Linked DNA regions of Homo sapiens: region 1 is reported to be linked to region 2. Evidence: microRNA targets listed by miRTarBase, many of them from high-throughput screens and not tested one by one. Region 2 holds a microRNA gene; the other region holds the end of a gene's coding sequence.
What was found. The annotated mature microRNA hsa-miR-8064 reads AGCACACUGAGCGAGCGGAC and lies in region 2 at 1,770-1,789, shown strand. An mRNA with a match to its seed (bases 2 to 7 or 8) in the 3' UTR can be bound and repressed. Matches are read on the target gene's strand: a 7mer-m8 pairs with bases 2 to 8, a 7mer-A1 pairs with bases 2 to 7 and ends in A, and an 8mer does both.

Region 1: the mRNA of PER2 is a reported target of hsa-miR-8064. Seed matches in the 3' UTR shown: 7mer-A1 at 1,448-1,454.

The regions. Positions count from the first base shown.
Region 1 is chr2:238,242,703-238,247,089 of GRCh38, forward strand. It overlaps PER2 (period circadian regulator 2), which reads right to left. Exons shown (of 23, transcript NM_022817.3): 23 at 1,342-3,822. The coding sequence ends at 3,673. Among named protein-coding and RNA genes, the nearest start is that of HES6, 4.9 kb to the left of the region's middle. RefSeq lists an enhancer at 3,446-4,387.
Region 2 is chr3:52,843,990-52,848,311 of GRCh38, reverse strand. It overlaps MIR8064 (microRNA 8064), which reads left to right and starts at 1,760; the gene lies at 1,760-1,849. It overlaps STIMATE-MUSTN1 (STIMATE-MUSTN1 readthrough), which reads left to right. Exons shown (of 10, transcript NM_001198974.3): 5 at 3,371-3,483. STIMATE (STIM activating enhancer) reads left to right here. Exons shown (of 8, transcript NM_198563.5): 5 at 3,371-3,483. RefSeq lists an enhancer at 3,327-3,827.

The sequences.
Region 1 (4,387 bases), not on the chromosome of region 2:
CAGCAAAATCCTTCTTGGTTGGACTGGAAGTTGCCCAAGGTCCCCTCTGCAAGGTCAGCTTCAATTCCCTTTAGCGGTGCACTGGCCAGCTGGCATGGCCTTTTTGTCCCAGAAGCCTGGCCTATCTTGAGGTCACCAAGCCCTCCCTCCCTCCTTCACAGCAGCCTCCCCTAGCCAACACTTCCTGCCATTTGTCCCTTGGGCCAGTCCTGCCTTCAAAGTTTGCCTGAGTATGGACTTCCTGAGCATTTGAGTCCTTTGATCCCCCTAGAGCCAGGAACAGAGGCCAGCAGAGGCTGGGCAGGGTGGTGGTTGCTGCGGGGATACCAGTTAGCAGTGGGGGTGGCAGGCCATAAATCCCTGGGGGAACAAAGGCAGCTGCGGCCTGTAGACTGTCCAGGCCCCTTGTGGGCAATCTGCCCAGGAGACTCAGAGAATCTCCGTTTGGTTTGGAAATAAATCCCTTGGGGTTATATGGTAAATAAAAATACAATTAAGAGTCTTCCAAAAGCACTCAGGTTCAGTGAAACAACCATATCTGGCCATTTAGAGCAGTTTGCAGAGGCCTCTGTGCTCGCTAGGGAGGACTTTGCCTTTTATCCCATCAGCACTTGGCGTTAGGCAGCCAGGCTAGCAGGCAGAGGAGAGCCCCTCCCTTCTGCTCAGGGAGCTTCTCAGAGGCTGGGCATTGGGTTCAGGATCCATTCAGCTCTCTGCTCCCACCCCCAGGGTCATGGTTTGAAGAGTGGGAGGGATGGGGAGCAACTCTTCGGGCTTCCACAGTTTTGGCCTCACAAGGCTTCATTCATCACTGTGAAAGAAGGGCTGGGGTCAGGGGACTATGCCGCCCTGCCCATATCATTCGCAATGGAGACATGTGACCTTCCTGGTGGAGCCTCCTGACCGCCCCACCTTTAGCCCTACCTAGCCCGATGACCAGAAGACAGGCAGCCAGCCTGGAAAGGCCAGGTAACCCAGGGCAGGGATGCAGGGAAGACAGAGGTGCGTGGAGGCAGAGCTGGGGGCACTCTGGGGCTGAGCCAGACAGCTGCACCCCTCCAACTAAAAGTGAAAAGACTGTGGGGCATGACACGATTAGGTTTGCATTACGTGAGTTCACTCCTGCAGCCTGAAGGAGGGTGTGTGTGTGACACGCACAGGAAGAAAGGGAGCCAGCAAGAAGCAAACGCTATAAGGGAGCTGACCGCCAGGAGGCCTTTGGGATGTAAGATTCTTTAATGCAGAATTCCTGGAGTTCTTTAAAAAAATTTTTTTTAAATAATCTTTGCTCTCTATTCAGGTTTTCCTTTGTGCTATGTGAAAAATACATACAAGTAAAAATAAAAATATACTTGCTTTATTTACCAATTTTCTAAAAGGCAAACAGGTCATAAAAAGACACAAGCAGTCAAACAAATCTATTGCACTGGGTAAAGAAAGTTTGGTTTGCACACAAACAAACCACTTGTCCAGCAAGGCTCAACAAATCATCACAGAAACTCTGAGAGCTTATTTACATATCTCTTCGGGAATATATTAAAAAGAAGGCTCAGTTTAAAATAGAGAAAAACTGTTTAACACCTGTGTAAGCACACACACTAAAGAAAACATGACTTGATGCTTGGCATCACGTAAACAAATTCACAAGATGATCCTATTAAGTCAACTGCTTGGCACGCGCTGAAGCTACAGTTAACAATCAGTGAGCACATATTAAATGATAAAATAATGCTGATGGTAAACATTCATAACAGCAGAGTAAGATTTTGGCAGTTTTGTGTTTCGGTAACATAACTGTAACCTTAGATGAACACCTATCCCTTCATGATCTGACTTTAGAGGCAAGGAGTTTGTAACATCTAATGGCCATAAGAATGCAGACTGCTACCTTATCATAGGCATAGGCAGCTGATGTTACTTTGTAAATTAACGAAAAATTAAAGTGTTCTTGTGTTTATGAAGAATAGGTTTAATAGTCAGGCATAAGATGGTTTTACGATGAAAACCTAGTGGATTACAAAGAGATTTCACCTCCATCAAAAAACAGAAAACCCTGGTCCCAGTTGGGCGTGGTGGCTCACGCCTGTAATCCCAGCACTTTGGGAGGCCGAGGTGGGTGGATCGCTTGAGGTCAGGAGTTCGAGACCAGCCTGGCCAACATGGTGAAACCCTGTCTCTACTAAAAATACAAAAAATTAGCTGGGTGTGGTGGCAGTCGCCTGTGGTCCCAGCTACTCAGGAGGCTGAGGCAGGAGAATCGCTTGAACCTGGGAGGCAGAGGTTGCAGTGAGCCAAGATGGCGCCACTGCACTCCAGCCTGGGCAAAAAGAAACTCCATCTAAAAAAAAAAAAAAAAAAAAAAAAAAAAGAAAACCCTGGTCCCTTTTAAGCCTCATAGTCTTGGTCCAATTTTAAGTCAACTGTTCTTCAGTGATAACTTTGAATTTCCACCAGGGACCAATATTAAATTTTCTGAACCATCTTTGGAATATACAATGCAACATGAGGTTTTGTAAAAAGCCGGGCAGACTGGCCTCACTTTTCCCCAAGTGTCCAAATGACCTAAAAGTGCTGGGGACACTGGCAGAGGCCTGAAGCTGCTCCGAGAGAGGTCGGGCTCATGAAAAGAATGAGGGCTGTGCACCCAACCCAGGGTGCAGTGGGAGAGGTGAGCTCACTGCACCCCTGAAAATACAGATGCAGTCGCAAGCTGTCAGACTGAGTGGCAGTGGCTGCTCTCGGCCAGGAGATGTGATGTGGGCTTGGCTGGGTGGAAGCAGATGTCTGGGTGGTTCCAACGGAAGAAAACCAAACAGGACTGGGTCTCACATGTGTTGGTCACAGCCTGGTTTGCAAAGGGAAGTCACCATAAAGAGATGACTGATGACATATTTTAATCTCCATATTGGCCATCATGGTCTGAAAAGGAGACAAGAATAATGCAGAAATATACAGAGGGTCTGTCTGCGTGTGCATTCATCCGATGGAGTTGGCCACACAAACCACTAGGCTTCTTTAGTCCAGAGCAAATGTTTCAACTTTGTTCACTACAAACAAAACCTATGTCAGACTGAAATATTGACCACACCAGAAGCCAAAGCTGTTGGTTTGCCAAACAACGCTTCACACCATTTAATGTGAAACGTTTTGAAATAAAACTAGGAGAGGCTGCTATCTCCATTTGGTATGTATAAAAAAACACTCTACCTTGACTAAATGATAATTCAGATAAAAAGCAGTCCCCAAGAGAGGACAAAATTTGATCTGATCCAAACACCCTGGGAAAGCTCTGGAAGCCAGAGTCCCCAGCTGGTGCAGCAGACAGAGGTCTCGTCACAGTCACAGGACTTCTGGGAGCACTGAGGCAACTTCCCTGACACTAAGAGGCGCTTAGTCTTTCTCAAGTTAAATAACAACTAAAATCTCTTCCCCATCCCACAAAACTCCACATATATATTTTATATATAAAAACATATTTCTTTCCGAACTCTCCCCACTCTCCACAGTTTTAAGTCGCCCCTTCAGAAAACTATGTTGTTTTTTTTTCTAAAACAAAAAAAGCAACATGAGCATATGTGTCCATTTCAGTGGAAACAGCCATGAAGATCTTTCATCTCTTCCAAGCACCACCTGGTGTACCTCGCTGGCTGCCGGGCTGAGGTGGGGCAGGGGTTACGTCTGCTCTTCGATCCTGTGATTCAAGGGGGATCCATTTTCGTCTTCTTTGGTGTCCGACACTTCGCTGAGTCCCAGAGAAGGAATATCTTCCTCATATGGTATGCAAATATTACCTTTTTCCTTGTTTTCACAGTAAACACATTCCTTAAAAGAAAAAAAAAGAGAAATCAGTAACAAACTTGAGATCTGAGTTGTTACAAAAGTCATTCAAATTGGCCGGGCGCGGTGGCTCACGCCTGTAATCCCAGCACTTTGGGAGGCCGAGGCGGGCAGATCACGACGTCAGGAGATCGAGACCTTCCTGGCTAACACGGTGAAATCCCATCTCTACTAATAATACAAAAAATTAGCTGGGCGTGGTGGCAGGCACCTGTAGTCCCAGCTACTTGGGAGGCTGAGGCAGAAGAATCGCTTGAACCCTGGAGGCAGAGCTTGCAGTGAGCGGAGATCACGCTACTGTGCTCCAGCCTGGGCGACAGAGTGAGACTCTGTCTCAAAAGATAAAAAGTCATTCAAACTGAGTAAGGTGCAGGTGACCAGGTGTCAGCCAGGAGGTGGCTGGCAGCAAAGGCCAAAATCCCTGTCCCAGGAGCTGGCACTCTAGTAGCAGAGAGAGACAATAACTAAGAAGGGCTCCAGAGGCATAGGGTATATAGAGGACATCTGTGATTTTCAACTGGACATTCACAGCAGGCCAAAGAAAAGGTGA
Region 2 (4,322 bases):
CAGCCCCTGCCCCTGGGTCATCCCACCACTGCCTTTGGGAGCCAGAGTCTTCAAGCCAGAATGTCTCCAAATAAAGCTGTGGGGACCATCCTGAGTCTTCCCCAGGCTGAGGAAGGATAGCTTGTCTGCTCAGTTACCTGTTGTTTTCTATTTCCATCAATTTCTGTTGTTTTCTATTGCTACTGTAACAGATTTCCACAAACTTCATGGCACAAATTGAAACAACACAAGTTGATTATCTTTTTTTGTTCAGAAGTCTGTCATGGGTCTCACTGGGCTAAAGTCCCAGTGTCAATGGGGCTGGCTTCTGGAGCCTCTGGGAAGATTGTTTTCTCGCCCTTTCCAGCCTCTAGAGTCTGCCTGTAAGCCTTGGCTCGCGGCCCCTCCTTCCGTCGTCCAAGCCAACAAGAGTCGCTGGGTTTATCCCACATCGAGTTGCCCTGACTTCCTGCAGCCTTCTACTTTAAAGTGTCCTTGTGATTACATTGGCCCCACCTGGACACTCAGAACACTCTCCCTGTCTTAAAGTCAGCTGACTAGCAGCCTTAATTCCATTTGCAGCCTCAATTCCCCTTTGCTATGTGATGCTACACACTCACAGGTTCCAGGGATTTGGATGTAGGCAACTGTGTGGGGCTGTTATTCCACCTCCCACACCTGTTATCCTGCCCATCCATTTGAGGAAGAGGTACCACAGCTCTCTTCTCATGTAAATGAAGAAGAGGGGCTTATTTTTCTAGGATGTGTCTTTTGTTCCTAGAAGAGAAGGCCAAGAGTTTGCTGATGAGAATGCGGGACTCAGGGAAATAAGCCACACAGCCCCGGCGGTTGAGACCAGATCCAGGTGACGCATGGTGTCTGCACTCTGATTACCAGGCCACTCTTTCCCATGTGGAAGCCCTGACATCTGGGTCACGGTGCTTCATGGGTCTTGCTGCCCATCCCTGGCCAAACTCTCCCTTTTGAAAGCCTCTCGCCACAGATGTGTTCCCTCCTTTTGGCCCCTATTGCTGTGACTTCTACTGAGGAAATAATTAAACCCAAACAAAACACCCACATGCCTGAGGTTGTTCATTGCAGTAAAAAGCAAGACACACAAGGTCCAGGTGCAGTGGCTCACACCTGTCATTCCCAGCACTTTGGGAGGCTTAAGCGGGGAGGATCGCTTGAGCCCAGGAGCTTAAGACCAGCCTTGGAAACAAAGCAAGATCCCGTCTCTACAAAAAAAAAAATTTTTTTTAATTAGCCAGGCACATGACATGCATTCTTAGTCCCAGGTACTTGGGAGGCTGAGGCAGGAGGATCACTCAAGCCTAGGAGTTTGAGGATACAATAAGCCGTGTTCATGCCCCTGCACTCTAGTCTGAATGACAGAGTGAGACCCCATCTCTAAGAAAACAATAACAGCAATGACAAAGCAGGACATGCAACACTGCCTGGCATGTCTGTCCTTTAAAGAGGAGACTGTGGGGGACATCTGAAAGACTCGCAAGTGAAACAGGAATCAGGAAACACAGCAGCCACGTGTGCTTCTCCCAACGGTGGCTGCGTGAGATCTGGGTTCCCAGAGGAAATGGTGTGCCAGACGGGGTCACAGGTGCTTTTTCTCTTTTCTCACGTTTCTGAACTTTCTTATTTTAGCATCTAAAGAGGCAGCTGTAGCTAAGTTGTGTAGCAGAAACCTAGAACACTGGGGCAATGTGAGGCGTATGGGAGGAAAAGCATTTTCCTCCTTGTCAGTCACTTAAAACTGAAGAGCAGATGGAGTGAGCACACTGAGCGAGCGGACATCCTTCCATAGTAAATAAGCGGTGCCGCGCGCTCCGCTGGCTCCCAAACACTCCAGTCCTCACAGAGAGATTTCCTAGTGGCGCTTTCTGTCCAACTGTCCTCAAACCTACTTAATTACTTAATGGTTTCTCACAAATAAGTTCATCTGTTGTTTTGAGAACTGTTCTCGATAAGGTTAGGTGACTTACCGAAAGGAAAAGGATTGCAAAACTCATTAACAACCTAGCAAGGAGGGATTATGCTTATGAAATGGGTTTTTTGGCTCAAATGTCTCCTATCCCTTAAGTGAAAGTAGAAAGGAAGACCTCAGAAGAGGCGACTGATGTGTTTCTGCCACACTTCTCCCAGGGTTTTCCAGAAAAGGGAATGGCCTGGTGTTTTGTCCATTGCAGCTGCATAAAGTCATTCCCTTGTGTACAGCTGACAGGCTTGGGCAGGGCATGGGCCTCCAGCATGGGTGCCCAAACAGGGATTGCTGCAGAAACAATAAAGCCAAGTGAGAAGCTGGAGATATCTCTTTGGACCAAATTATCTTCTCATAGCCTGGATTACGGCCTTTACCCCCCAGCCTCCCGCCCCCCCGCCACCCCCAAAATGCTACCCTGTACCCCCTCTTCTGGCCAGCTGTGGTAAGGCAGCTCTGGCAGAACTTCCAGGGTGAGCCCCAGGCAACCTTCCCACATCCCACTCTCCCCTGGGTCTCCCACTTTGGGGAGGCCTATGTGGCTCCCAGGAGCCACCCTAGGGTTCTTCATATCACAGGATCATTCCCTGGAGGGGCTGGTCTTCTCTCCGTTCAAAATGTCCTGGAGGCATTCCAAGGCCTGCACATCCTCCAGCTTGTACTACTAGGTCCCTCGGTTTCTCAAGCATGGTGACTGAAGGGGTCCCAGATGGACCTTTGTCACAGCCCTGGGCCCCGGCCCATCCCTCCCACCTCCTTGCCCCAAGGACTTCTCTCTTCACTTCCTTGTCCCTGGCCAAGGTGTTTGGGGTGACCCATGCTGGACAGGTAGAGTCCAAATTCCTCCAGAGTCACGTTTCTGCTCTCAAGAGGCTGAGGTATCAGGGATGGCCCGGGGAGTTGGGTAAGGGATGGGAGGTGGGGAGGTGGGAGACAAACAAAGCGACTGGGTCCTGCTTCATCATCCACAAACATCAGTCCACTCATGGACAGAGAAGGGAGGGGCAGCCCCGCTGTCACTGGAAAAATCAACAACGGATAAGAATAGCAGTCTTGCTTCATACAGCTTCTGCTGCCAGCCGGCAGAAAGAACAGCTTTTCTGAGCTCCAGCAATGAGCACTTCCTAACTTTAGTGCTTTTTAATCCTATCTTAGAATCTCTTAAAAGAAAGGCCATTTTAGTATCTTCAAATAAGGAATTCTCTGATTTTATTTAAAATACTGCATTTGTCTGTTAAGGATGAGGTAATCCTTTGGACTTTTGGGGGGGCTCATTAAGTACCTTTAGAGCTTTAGAGCCAGTGTTCTGGGGTGCGTGTGGGGGAGTGGGGTGGGGACATCATCTCACTCAGATGCCTGGGCCCCATGTGACTAAGCACCCGCCTGTCCCTGCAGGAGACCCTCTGCAGTGTGGAGCCTGGGTCGGGCAGTGCGCTCTTTACATCGTGATCATGATTTTTGAAAAGTCTGTCGTCTTCATCGTCCTCCTAATACTTCAGTGGAAAAAGGTTTGCTTCGTCCCTGCATGAGCAGCTCCTTGCCACGCTGAGCAAGCAGCACTTCCTCCCCATCACCCACATACGCCAACTCTAGGAAAACCAAACTTGTTTTAACTCTATGAATGTGTCCTGCATTTGGTCTGATGTGGCAACTACTCCAAAGAGCTTGTCAATTCTTAGCATCCATCCACTTTAAATGTCTGTTCTAGATGAAGCCTTGGGATGTATAAAACTAATGAAATACAGTCCCTGCCCTCGGCTTGCTACCATCTGATGGTGGTTTTTAGGCCTTGCGACAATACATGTTTCTACATCGGCAAACATCCTGTCACACACCTCTCTTGGCTGGTAGTTTAACTGAGCCATGTGGTGCCACGGGCAGCTTCCACAGTCTGTGACCTTCAGTGTGCCGATGCCCTGGCCAGCCCACGGGCTCCCCAACCGTGGCTTCCGCCCTCTGACCCCAGTTCTGTGTAGATAAACCCCCACTCCTCATCCCCGAATGCCCACATGAGACCAGCCAGAAGCTTTGAGAACAAGTGGCTCAGCTTGGCCTCCTTTGGGTTTTATTTGTGTTTGGATTTTATTTAAGAAAATAAGCCAAGGCTTTTCAGTGCTGTTGTCTTTTAGGGGTGGTTGAGGTGTGGGATTTCTGTTAGAAAGTGGTCTGGGGCCTCATTGCTGGTGTCTATAATGAGCATCCACTGTGTTCACCCCTCCAGCCCCCTGAAGCCCACACTCCACTCTCCCGGTGGGCACTGCTTGCCTTGCCCTGGCTTGGTGGCTGTAAGCCCACTGCACTTTGCAAGTCCACACTGAGGGGAAAGCTGCCAAAGCACCAGATGCTT